2 linked regions of the Homo sapiens genome follow. The gene in region 1 interacts genetically with each later gene. Each region holds a gene or a part of one and is shown in the gene's direction. Other genes may lie near its edges.

Region 1 (5,640 bases):
GATCAGAAGACTACAAAAATGAAGCTGCTCTGAAATCTCCTTTAGCCATCACCCCAACCCCCCAAAATTAGTTTGTGTTACTTATGGAAGATAGTTTTCTCCTTTTACTTCACTTCAAAAGCTTTTTACTCAAAGAGTATATGTTCCCTCCAGGTCAGCTGCCCCCAAACCCCCTCCTTACGCTTTGTCACACAAAAAGTGTCTCTGCCTTGAGTCATCTATTCAAGCACTTACAGCTCTGGCCACAACAGGGCATTTTACAGGTGCGAATGACAGTAGCATTATGAGTAGTGTGGAATTCAGGTAGTAAATATGAAACTAGGGTTTGAAATTGATAATGCTTTCACAACATTTGCAGATGTTTTAGAAGGAAAAAAGTTCCTTCCTAAAATAATTTCTCTACAATTGGAAGATTGGAAGATTCAGCTAGTTAGGAGCCCACCTTTTTTCCTAATCTGTGTGTGCCCTGTAACCTGACTGGTTAACAGCAGTCCTTTGTAAACAGTGTTTTAAACTCTCCTAGTCAATATCCACCCCATCCAATTTATCAAGGAAGAAATGGTTCAGAAAATATTTTCAGCCTACAGTTATGTTCAGTCACACACACATACAAAATGTTCCTTTTGCTTTTAAAGTAATTTTTGACTCCCAGATCAGTCAGAGCCCCTACAGCATTGTTAAGAAAGTATTTGATTTTTGTCTCAATGAAAATAAAACTATATTCATTTCCACTCTATTATGCTCTCAAATACCCCTAAGCATCTATACTAGCCTGGTATGGGTATGAAAGATACAAAGATAAATAAAACATAGTCCCTGATTCTAAGAAATTCACAATTTAGCAAAGGAAATGGACTCATAGATGCTAACCTTAAAACAACGTGACAAATGCCAGACAGGACCCATCAGCCAGGCACTGTGAGAGCACAGAGCAGGGAGGTTGGGTCCTGCCTGAGGAGACCTGGAAGGGAGGCCTCACAGGAGGATGACCAGGTCTCAGTCAGCGGGGAGGTGGAAAGTGCAGGTGCATCAGGGGCACCCTGACCGAGGAAACAGCTGCCAGAGGCCTCCACTGCTAAAGTCCACATAAGGCTGAGGTCAGTCACCCTAAACAACCTGCTCCCTCTAAGCCAGGGGATGAGCTTGGAGCATCCCACAAGTTCCCTAAAAGTTGCAGCCCCCAGGGGGATTTTGAGCTATCATCTCTGCACATGCTTAGTGAGAAGACTACACAACATTTCTAAGAATCTGAGATTTTATATTGTCAGTTAACCACTTTCATTATTCATTCACCTCAGGACATGCAGAAATATTTCAGTCAGAACTGGGAAACAGAAGGACCTACATTCTGCTGTCACTTATGTGTCAAGAAGCAGATGATCGATGAGGCAGGTCAGTTGTAAGTGAGTCACATTGTAGCATTAAATTCTAGTATTTTTGTAGTTTGAAACAGTAACTTAATAAAAGAGCAAAAGCTATTCTAGCTTTCTTCTTCATATTTTAATTTTCCACCATAAAGTTTAGTTGCTAAATTCTATTAATTTTAAGATTGTGCTTCCCAAAATAGTTCTCACTTCATCTGTCCAGGGAGGCACAGTTCTGTCTGGTAGAAGCCGCAAAGCCCTTAGCCTCTTCACGGATCTGGCGACTGTGATGGGCAGGTCAGGAGAGGAGCTGCCCAAAGTCCCATGATTTTCACCTAACAGCCCTGATCAGTCAGTACTCAAAGCTTGGACTCCATCCCTGAAGGTCTTCCTGATTGATAGCCTGGCCTTAATACCCTACAGAAAGCCTGTCCATTGGCTGTTTCTTCCTCAGTCAGTTCCTGGAAGACCTTACCCCATGACCCCAGCTTCAGATGTGGTCTTTGGAAACAGAGGTCGAAGGAAAGTAAGGAGCTGAGAGCTCACATTCATAGGTGCCGCCAGCCTTCGTGCATCTTCTTGCATCATCTCTAAGGAGCTCCTCTAATTACACCATGCCCGTCACCCCATGAGGGATCAGAGAAGGGATGAGTCTTCTAAACTCTATATTCGCTGTGAGTCCAGGTTGTAAGGGGGAGCACTGTGGATGCATCCTATTGCACTCCAGCTGATGACACCAAAGCTTAGGTGTTTGCTGAAAGTTCTTGATGTTGTGACTTACCACCCCTGCCTCACAACTGCAGACATAAGGGGACTATGGATTGCTTAGCAGGAAAGGCACTGGTTCTCAAGGGCGGCTGCCCTTGGGAATCTTCTGGTCCCAACCAGAAAGACTGTGGCTTGATTTTCTCAGGTGCAGCCCAGCCGTAGGGCCTTTTCAGAGCACCCCCTGGTTATTGCAACATTCATCAAAGTTTCTAGAACCTCTGGCCTAAAGGAAGGGCCTGGTGGGATCTACTTGGCACTCGCTGGGGGGCCACCCCCCAGTGCCACTCTCACTAGGCCTCTGATTGCACTTGTGTAGGATGAAGCTGGTGGGTGATGGGAACTCAGCACCTCCCCTCAGGCAGAAAAGAATCATCTGTGGAGCTTCAAAAGAAGGGGCCTGGAGTCTCTGCAGACCAATTCAACCCAAATCTCGGGGGCTCTTTCATGATTCTAATGGGCAACCAGGGTTGAAACCCTTATTTCTAGGGTCTTCAGTTGTACAAGACTGTGGGTCTGTACCAGAGCCCCCGTCAGAGTAGAATAAAAGGCTGGGTAGGGTAGAGATTCCCATGTGCAGTGGAGAGAACAATCTGCAGTCACTGATAAGCCTGAGACTTGGCTCATTTCAAAAGCGTTCAATTCATCCTCACCAGCAGTTCAGCTGGAAAGGGGCAAATACCCCCACCTGAGCTTTGAAAACGCCCTGGGACCCTCTGCATTCTCTAAGTAAGTTATAGAAACCAGTCTCTTCCCTCCTTTGTGAGTGAGCTGCTATTCCACGTAGGCAACACCTGTTGAAATTGCCCTCAATGTCTACTCTGCATTTCTTTCTTGTGATAAGCACACACTTTTATTGCAACATAATGATCTGCTCACATTTCCTTGCCTGGGGGCTGTAAAACCTTACAGAACAGAAATCCTTGCCTCTTTCACCAGCCACACCTGCCATACCAGGGGTACAGCTTTGTACTATTGAAGACACAGACAGGATTTTTAAATGTAAATCTATTTTTGTAACTTTGTTGCGGGATATAGTTCTCTTTATGTAGCACTGAACTTTGTACAATATATTTTTAGAAACTCATTTTTCTACTAAAACAAACACAGTTTACTTTAGAGAGACTGCAATAGAATCAAAATTTGAAACTGAAATCTTTGTTTAAAAGGGTTAAGTTGAGGCAAGAGGAAAGCCCTTTCTCTCTCTTATAAAAAGGCACAACCTCATTGGGGAGCTAAGCTAGGTCATTGTCATGGTGAAGAAGAGAAGCATCGTTTTTATATTTAGGAAATTTTAAAAGATGATGGAAAGCACATTTAGCTTGGTCTGAGGCAGGTTCTGTTGGGGCAGTGTTAATGGAAAGGGCTCACTGTTGTTACTACTAGAAAAATCCAGTTGCATGCCATACTCTCATCATCTGCCAGTGTAACCCTGTACATGTAAGAAAAGCAATAACATAGCACTTTGTTGGTTTATATATATAATGTGACTTCAATGCAAATTTTATTTTTATATTTACAATTGATATGCATTTACCAGTATAAACTAGACATGTCTGGAGAGCCTAATAATGTTCAGCACACTTTGGTTAGTTCACCAACAGTCTTACCAAGCCTGGGCCCAGCCACCCTAGAGAAGTTATTCAGCCCTGGCTGCAGTGACATCACCTGAGGAGCTTTTAAAAGCTTGAAGCCCAGCTACACCTCAGACCGATTAAACGCAAATCTCTGGGGCTGAAACCCAAGCATTCGTAGTTTTTAAAGCTCCTGAGGTCATTCCAATGTGCGGCCAAAGTTGAGAACTACTGGCCTAGGGATTAGCCACAAGGACATGGACTTGGAGGCAAATTCTGCAGGTGTATGTGATTCTCAGGCCTAGAGAGCTAAGACACAAAGACCTCCACATCTGTCGCTGAGAGTCAAGAACCTGAACAGAGTTTCCATGAAGGTTCTCCAAGCACTAGAAGGGAGAGTGTCTAAACAATGGTTGAAAAGCAAAGGAAATATAAAACAGACACCTCTTTCCATTTCCTAAGGTTTCTCTCTTTATTAAGGGTGGACTAGTAATAAAATATAATATTCTTGCTGCTTATGCAGCTGACATTGTTGCCCTCCCTAAAGCAACCAAGTAGCCTTTATTTCCCACAGTGAAAGAAAACGCTGGCCTATCAGTTACATTACAAAAGGCAGATTTCAAGAGGATTGAGTAAGTAGTTGGATGGCTTTCATAAAAACAAGAATTCAAGAAGAGGATTCATGCTTTAAGAAACATTTGTTATACATTCCTCACAAATTATACCTGGGATAAAAACTATGTAGCAGGCAGTGTGTTTTCCTTCCATGTCTCTCTGCACTACCTGCAGTGTGTCCTCTGAGGCTGCAAGTCTGTCCTATCTGAATTCCCAGCAGAAGCACTAAGAAGCTCCACCCTATCACCTAGCAGATAAAACTATGGGGAAAACTTAAATCTGTGCATACATTTCTGGATGCATTTACTTATCTTTAAAAAAAAAGGAATCCTATGACCTGATTTGGCCACAAAAATAATCTTGCTGTACAATACAATCTCTTGGAAATTAAGAGATCCTATGGATTTGATGACTGGTATTAGAGGTGACAATGTAACCGATTAACAACAGACAGCAATAACTTCGTTTTAGAAACATTCAAGCAATAGCTTTATAGCTTCAACATATGGTACGTTTTAACCTTGAAAGTTTTGCAATGATGAAAGCAGTATTTGTACAAATGAAAAGCAGAATTCTCTTTTATATGGTTTATACTGTTGATCAGAAATGTTGATTGTGCATTGAGTATTAAAAAATTAGATGTATATTATTCATTGTTCTTTACTCCTGAGTACCTTATAATAATAATAATGTATTCTTTGTTAACAATGCCATGTTGGTACTAGTTATTAATCATATCTAACCAACTGTAGGTGTTCTTTCCTGATAACTTTTTTAAAAAATCAATAAATTATTTTTAGAGCAGTTTTAGGTTCACAGCAAAACTAAGCAGAAAGTTCAGAGAGCCCCCCCTGTCGCTAACCAGCCTCTCCCACCATCACCATCGCACCTCAGGAACCAGAGAACTTTTTAATGGAAAAAAAATCCAAGCCAGCTCGGAGGCTTCCTCCTGTGTCTGGGCCAGCCCCTCGGGCTCTCAGATGCATTCCAACTCAAGCTCTTCACATGCCAGAGCCTTCCAGTGCCCTTGAGACCCCTCATTCCAAAGATCTCTTCATAGTTTTTCTCCTTCACAGAGCCAAGAGGGAATTCCCTGATGGAACAGATTTTTCTATGGCAAGCCCAGGTTTTATTTCTTCAGAGTACCAAAATAATTAGAAGTTTGCCCTGATTCTGCTAAAAATCAGAGGAATTAAGTGGGTCCCAGCATGGGCAAGGGGCCTCCCATTCAGCTGCCCCACTCACCGCCAACCTCTCTTACATGTGGGTGGTCCCACCCTCCACCCAGAACTTTCATGGCAGGAGCTCTCACTGCCGTGTTT
Region 2 (5,227 bases), on another chromosome or scaffold:
GGTATCGTTCTTTCATTCTGTCTTTTATTTTCCATAGAAATCGAAATATTTAAGAAGTTATCCATCAGGCCGGGTGCAGTGGCTCATGCCTCTAATCCCAGCACTTTGGGAGGCCGAGGCGGATGGATCACGAGATCAGGAGTGCGAGACCAGCCTGGCCAACATAGTGAAACCCCGTCTCTACTAAAAATACAATAAATTAGCCAGGCATGGTGGTGGGCACCTGTCATCCCAGCTACTCAGGAGGCTGAGGCAGGAGAATGGCTTGAACCCGGGAGGCAAAGGTTGCAGTGAGCCAGGATCGCACCATTGCACTCCAGCCTGGACGACAGAGCGAGACTCTGTCTCAAAAAAACAAACAAACAAACAAAAAAAAACTATAAGCTATCCATCATGTATGACTTTAGAATTGGTAGAATAGACTAGGACCACTAACTTGGGGGTGATCTACCACTGGTCAAACAATAATATGAAACTAAACATAGCTGGGAAATTACCAGGACAGTTATTTGGCAAGCATTTATTCATTCCATATTCTGATTGCCTAATATGTATGTTAGCACTATTCCAAACATTGGAGAAACAATTATAAATAAAATACAGTTTGTGCTTGAAGGCACTCACAGTCTACTCAGGGAGACACACCCATAAACAACTACGATATACAATTAAAGTGACTTAAAACAATGCAAAATAAAGATGTTCAAGTACTGAGAGATCTCGAGGAAAGGAGAATTTCTGGCTAGAGAATTGTGAAAGGTTTCCTGAAGGAGATGAGTGTTGAGTCAAACTTTAATGGATAAATGAGTAGGCATTTATCAGATGAAGAGAAGTATGTAGAGTGAAACAGCTGCAATTATCTATTTACTACTAAGGTTATAGATACTTCGAGTTTAAATAAGTTTCGGGTTGGGAGAACATCACTATTTTCAACCTTTTTAATCTTCATTTTTATTTATTTATTTTTTGAGACAGAGCTTCGCTCTTTGTTGCCCAGGCTGGAGTGCAATGGCACGATCTCAGCCCACTGCAGCCTCCATCTCCAGGGTTCAAGTGATTCTTCTGTCTGAGCCTCCCGAGTAGCTGGGATTACAGGCTCACACCAACACGCCTGGCTAATTTTTGCATTTTTAGTAGAGACAGGATTTCACCATGTTGGCCAGGCTGGTCTCAAACTCCTGACCTTGTGATCCACCCGCCTTGGCCTCCCAGAGTGCTGGGATTACAGGCATGAGCCACTGTGCCCAGCCCATTTTAATGTGTAGTATTAATTCCTTTAAGTTTATGAAAATGGAACCTTTCTGGGCTTAAATTTAATCAGCTTTTATTTTCTTTGTCTACCTCTTAGATCAGGTGTCAAAGAGCAAAATCAAAAATGGGCATCTCATGGGAGGGAGGGGAGAGAGTAGATAGTCCCCCTTGTTGTTTTAGAATTTTCCTTCTATAGGTCAGAGAGAAGTGATGTGATTTCTTAGAACCTGAAAGAAATGTGTTCTCTCCCCTAACATCTTTTTTTAAAAAAGTGCTTACCCATAAAATATTTGGTTAATCAGATTTCTCTGCTCCTTGGCTACTTTGACTTTATGCTTTTCGTCTTTCTTTTTATAGGGTTGCTTTGTTTTTAAGCCAAACTCCAAAAAGAGAAAGATCTCTCTGCCAATAGGTAAGGTGTCTGAATATTAAATTTTTTATTCCCTACCTTCTTAAACTATTAGGAACTAACCCTAATTGAATTTAGTAATTCTCTTGTCTAACCTTGGCTTACTTGCCATGTTGATGTAGCATTTATGTTCCAAGGCATTGGTCAAAGAGATAAGAGGACACCCCAGGGCTCTAATTGAAAAGAGAATCCAATTACACCTTCCAAAGGTAAGTTGGAAGCAAATTTCCTTCAAAGGATATGCTGCTATTCTTTAAAAGAGATTGTCTTTTTGATTACTTCTCTGCCATTGTTTTTTTATCTACAACTTTAGAAATGAAAGTGAGTTTCTGCTAGAGAAACATTTTGATCCTTGATGAAGTAATCAAAACAATAAAGGCTGACTGGCAACCCAGATTTCTAATGATGGGGGAAATGTTATTTAGAAAATAAAATGATAATTGGTAACATAAGGAAAACCTAAGAAAGAATGATTATAAATTTGTATATATTTTCTAATGAAAATTGTATAAAAATTATTTTTGAGTTAAAATACAATATTCATGGGGAGACTTAAATATGCTTAAAAATTTTGATGTGATATTCCATTTTATGAATAAACTTGGCAAAATAAATTAAAGCAATCATCTATCTGTATGGAGCATTTTAGAACTTAGGGCTTAGTAACTACATGTGTGTTAGAATACTGCATGTTCTAACTTAGGGATAAATGCTGTGCACATCAATACATGCTGAGAAAAAAGCCCAAGGTCTTGGATCTCTTACAGTAATTCTACCTGCTAGAGCACAAAGTTATGGAATCACCTGGACTATAAGTAAAGGAATTGGAGTGTGATCCTGAGCCTGACCAGCTCTATGGCTTTGGCCCTGCTGTTTAACCTTTCCCTAAGTCTCTTCATCTGTAAAATGAGCAACTATACTCACTTATCACTAAGATTTCTCCCTATTCTCATTCTATCTCTCTAAGAGCTAACATGTAGTGCTTTGTAAGACTATCATAAATACCATGTGAATAAATTTGTGTTATTATGGATTGTTACCACCTTGGCCTTATAGTTTGTGTTCCAAGACTCCTATCTCTCACTAGCCTGAGGGAAGGGAAAAAGCTGAGAATGAGTAGCAGAAGACTTTCTACTCTCACAATGGCTACATATTTCCAAGTGGCCCAGATTTCCTCTCTTAGTCTTCACATCCTTTCTACCAGTTTGCACCCTCCATCATCTCTCGGAAGCACCAGGGTCCCACACAGTTCTCAATCACTCTTCATTTCATAAAACAAATTTGTTAAATTATTGAGTTTTAATCACTCATAGACACACATACTCATGATATTAAGGGAGTGGATTTTTATCACTCACTCAGACATACGCATACTCACACACTCATATACCCATGTGTGTAAGAGAGGAAAGACATTTCTTTTGGTTTTGTTTGTTGATTTATTTTAGAGACAGGGTCTCAGTCTGTCACCCAGGCTTCAGTTCGGCGGCCTGATCATAGCTCACTTCAGCCTTGAAAACTCCTGGGCTTAAATGATCCTCCCACCTCAGCCTCCCAAGTACCTGGGACTACAGGCATGCGCTACGACGCCTGGCTAATTATTTTTTAAAATTTTTTGTAGAGACAGGGTCTCACTTTGTTGCCCAGGTTGGTCCTGAATTCCAGGGCTCAAGTGATCCTCCCACCTCAGACCTCAAAGTGCTGGGATTACAGGTGTGAGCCACTGTGCCCAGCCTAATTTGTTTGTTTGTTTTTGTTTTTTTTTTTTGAGACGGAGTCTAGCTCTCAGCATGATCTCAGCTCACTGCAACCTCCGCCTCCCAGGTTCAAGCGATTCTCCTGCCTCAGTCTCCCGAGTAGCTGGGACTACAGGCATGCGCCACAATGCCTGGCTAATTTTTGTATTTTTTAGTAGAGATCGGGTTTCACTATGTTGGCCAGGCTGATCTCGAACTCCCGGCCTTGTGATCTGCCCACCTCAGCCTTCCAAAGTGCTAGGATTACAGGTGTGAGTCACTGTGCTCGGCTGTTTGTTTTTTTGTTGTTTTTTTTTTTTTAAGGCAAAAACAACACAGGTTGTGTTAAAGTCCCAGTGGTTTCCTGGGATGAAGTAGGGGGAATTAACTGCAAAAAGGCAAGAGGGAACTTTCTGGAGTGATGGAAATGTTCTCTGTTGACAGAGTGGTTATGTAAGTATATACCTGGGTCAAACTGTTAAAATGGTTGTGTTTAATTATTTGTAAATTATACCTCAATAAAATTCAATTAATAAAAAAAGATACTGTCTTCACTTTTTTCATTTATATCCTGATACCTGTTTAGTGATCAAATTAAGAAGACTTGACTTCTTCAATCAAATCCAGTATTACTATCAGAATGTATTTATTGCACCGGTTCTCAATCATAGCTTCACATTAGAATCATTTGGGGAACTTTGAAAAGTCTTATTTTAATATAATTGTAGATGCACATATAATTACAGGTAATACTCTTCCACCAGTAAGTACCCTACGACCAGTTATCCCCAGTGGCAGTATCTTACATAACTATAGTACAGTGTCACAATTAAGAAACTGATATTAATACAATCTAGTGACCTTATTCAATTCCAACTTGTGGGACTTTGAAAAAATGCAGGGTGAGAGTTCCTTATCCCAAATCTTGGGACCAGAAGTGTTTTGGTTATTGGAATTTTTTCAGATTTTGAAATATATACCTGTATATAATGAGATAATCTTGGGAATGAGACCCAAGTCTAAAAATAAAATTCATTCATGTTTCATATACACCTTAACCACATAGCCTGAAACGAATTTTACATAATATTTTAAATAATATTGTGCATGAAACAAAGTTTTGGCTGTGTTTTGACTGCGACCTGTCACTTGAGGTGAGATATGGAATTTTCCACTTGTGGCATCATGTTGGTACTCAAAAAGTTTCAGATTCTGGAGGATTTCAGATTTTTGGATTAGAGATGCTCAACCTGTGCCAATGCTAAGACCCTAACCCGGATCAATTGAATTAGAATCTCAAGAGTGGGGCCTAAGTGTTAGAATTTTTCAAAAGCTCCCCACAGGGTTATTGAGTATATACATTCCATATTCAGCACTGTGAAAATTAATTCCAGTGGAAAAATTATGATATGGAATTAAGCATACCCATGTACTAGTTTTGAATTGAAAAAATGAACTATGCCACTGTTTGACTAAGGAAATAAATGGATAACTTGAATATATAGAATAGGATTTTTTTTAAGTAATGATATATATATATACACACACACACACACACACACACACACACATATATATATAATTTTTTTTTAAAATAGAGATGGGATCTTACTATGTTGCCCAGGCTGGTCCTGAACTCCTGAGTTCAAGTGATCCTCCCACCTTGGCCTCCCAAAGTGCTGGGATTACAGGCGTGAGTCACCATGCCTGGCCACACATTTCTTTAATGTTGCAGATTGCTCAACTTACTAGAAATAGGTCAGAGAAAATTAAAGACTTGTTCCCCCATTATCATTAGGGACACATAGCATGCAGTGACATCTAATATCAT

Evidence for each region. A genetic interaction does not mean that the proteins touch.
Region 2: changes in EGFR (region 1) and ORC3 together harm fitness more than expected from each alone (negative genetic interaction), as found in Homo sapiens cells (one large-scale study listed by BioGRID).

The regions. Positions count from the first base shown.
Region 1 is NC_000007.14:55,206,603-55,212,242, forward strand, and holds the end of EGFR (epidermal growth factor receptor isoform a precursor), read left to right. Parts: 3' UTR 1-5,026; downstream 5,027-5,640. UniProt on the Homo sapiens protein: Receptor tyrosine kinase binding ligands of the EGF family and activating several signaling cascades to convert extracellular cues into appropriate cellular responses.
Region 2 is NC_000006.12:87,592,745-87,597,971, forward strand, and holds part of ORC3 (origin recognition complex subunit 3), read left to right. Parts: intron 1-1,606; exon of another isoform or gene 1,607-1,608; coding exon 1,609-1,663; intron 1,664-1,782; exon of another isoform or gene 1,783-1,869; intron 1,870-5,227. UniProt on the Homo sapiens protein: Component of the origin recognition complex (ORC) that binds origins of replication. DNA-binding is ATP-dependent. The specific DNA sequences that define origins of replication have not been identified yet.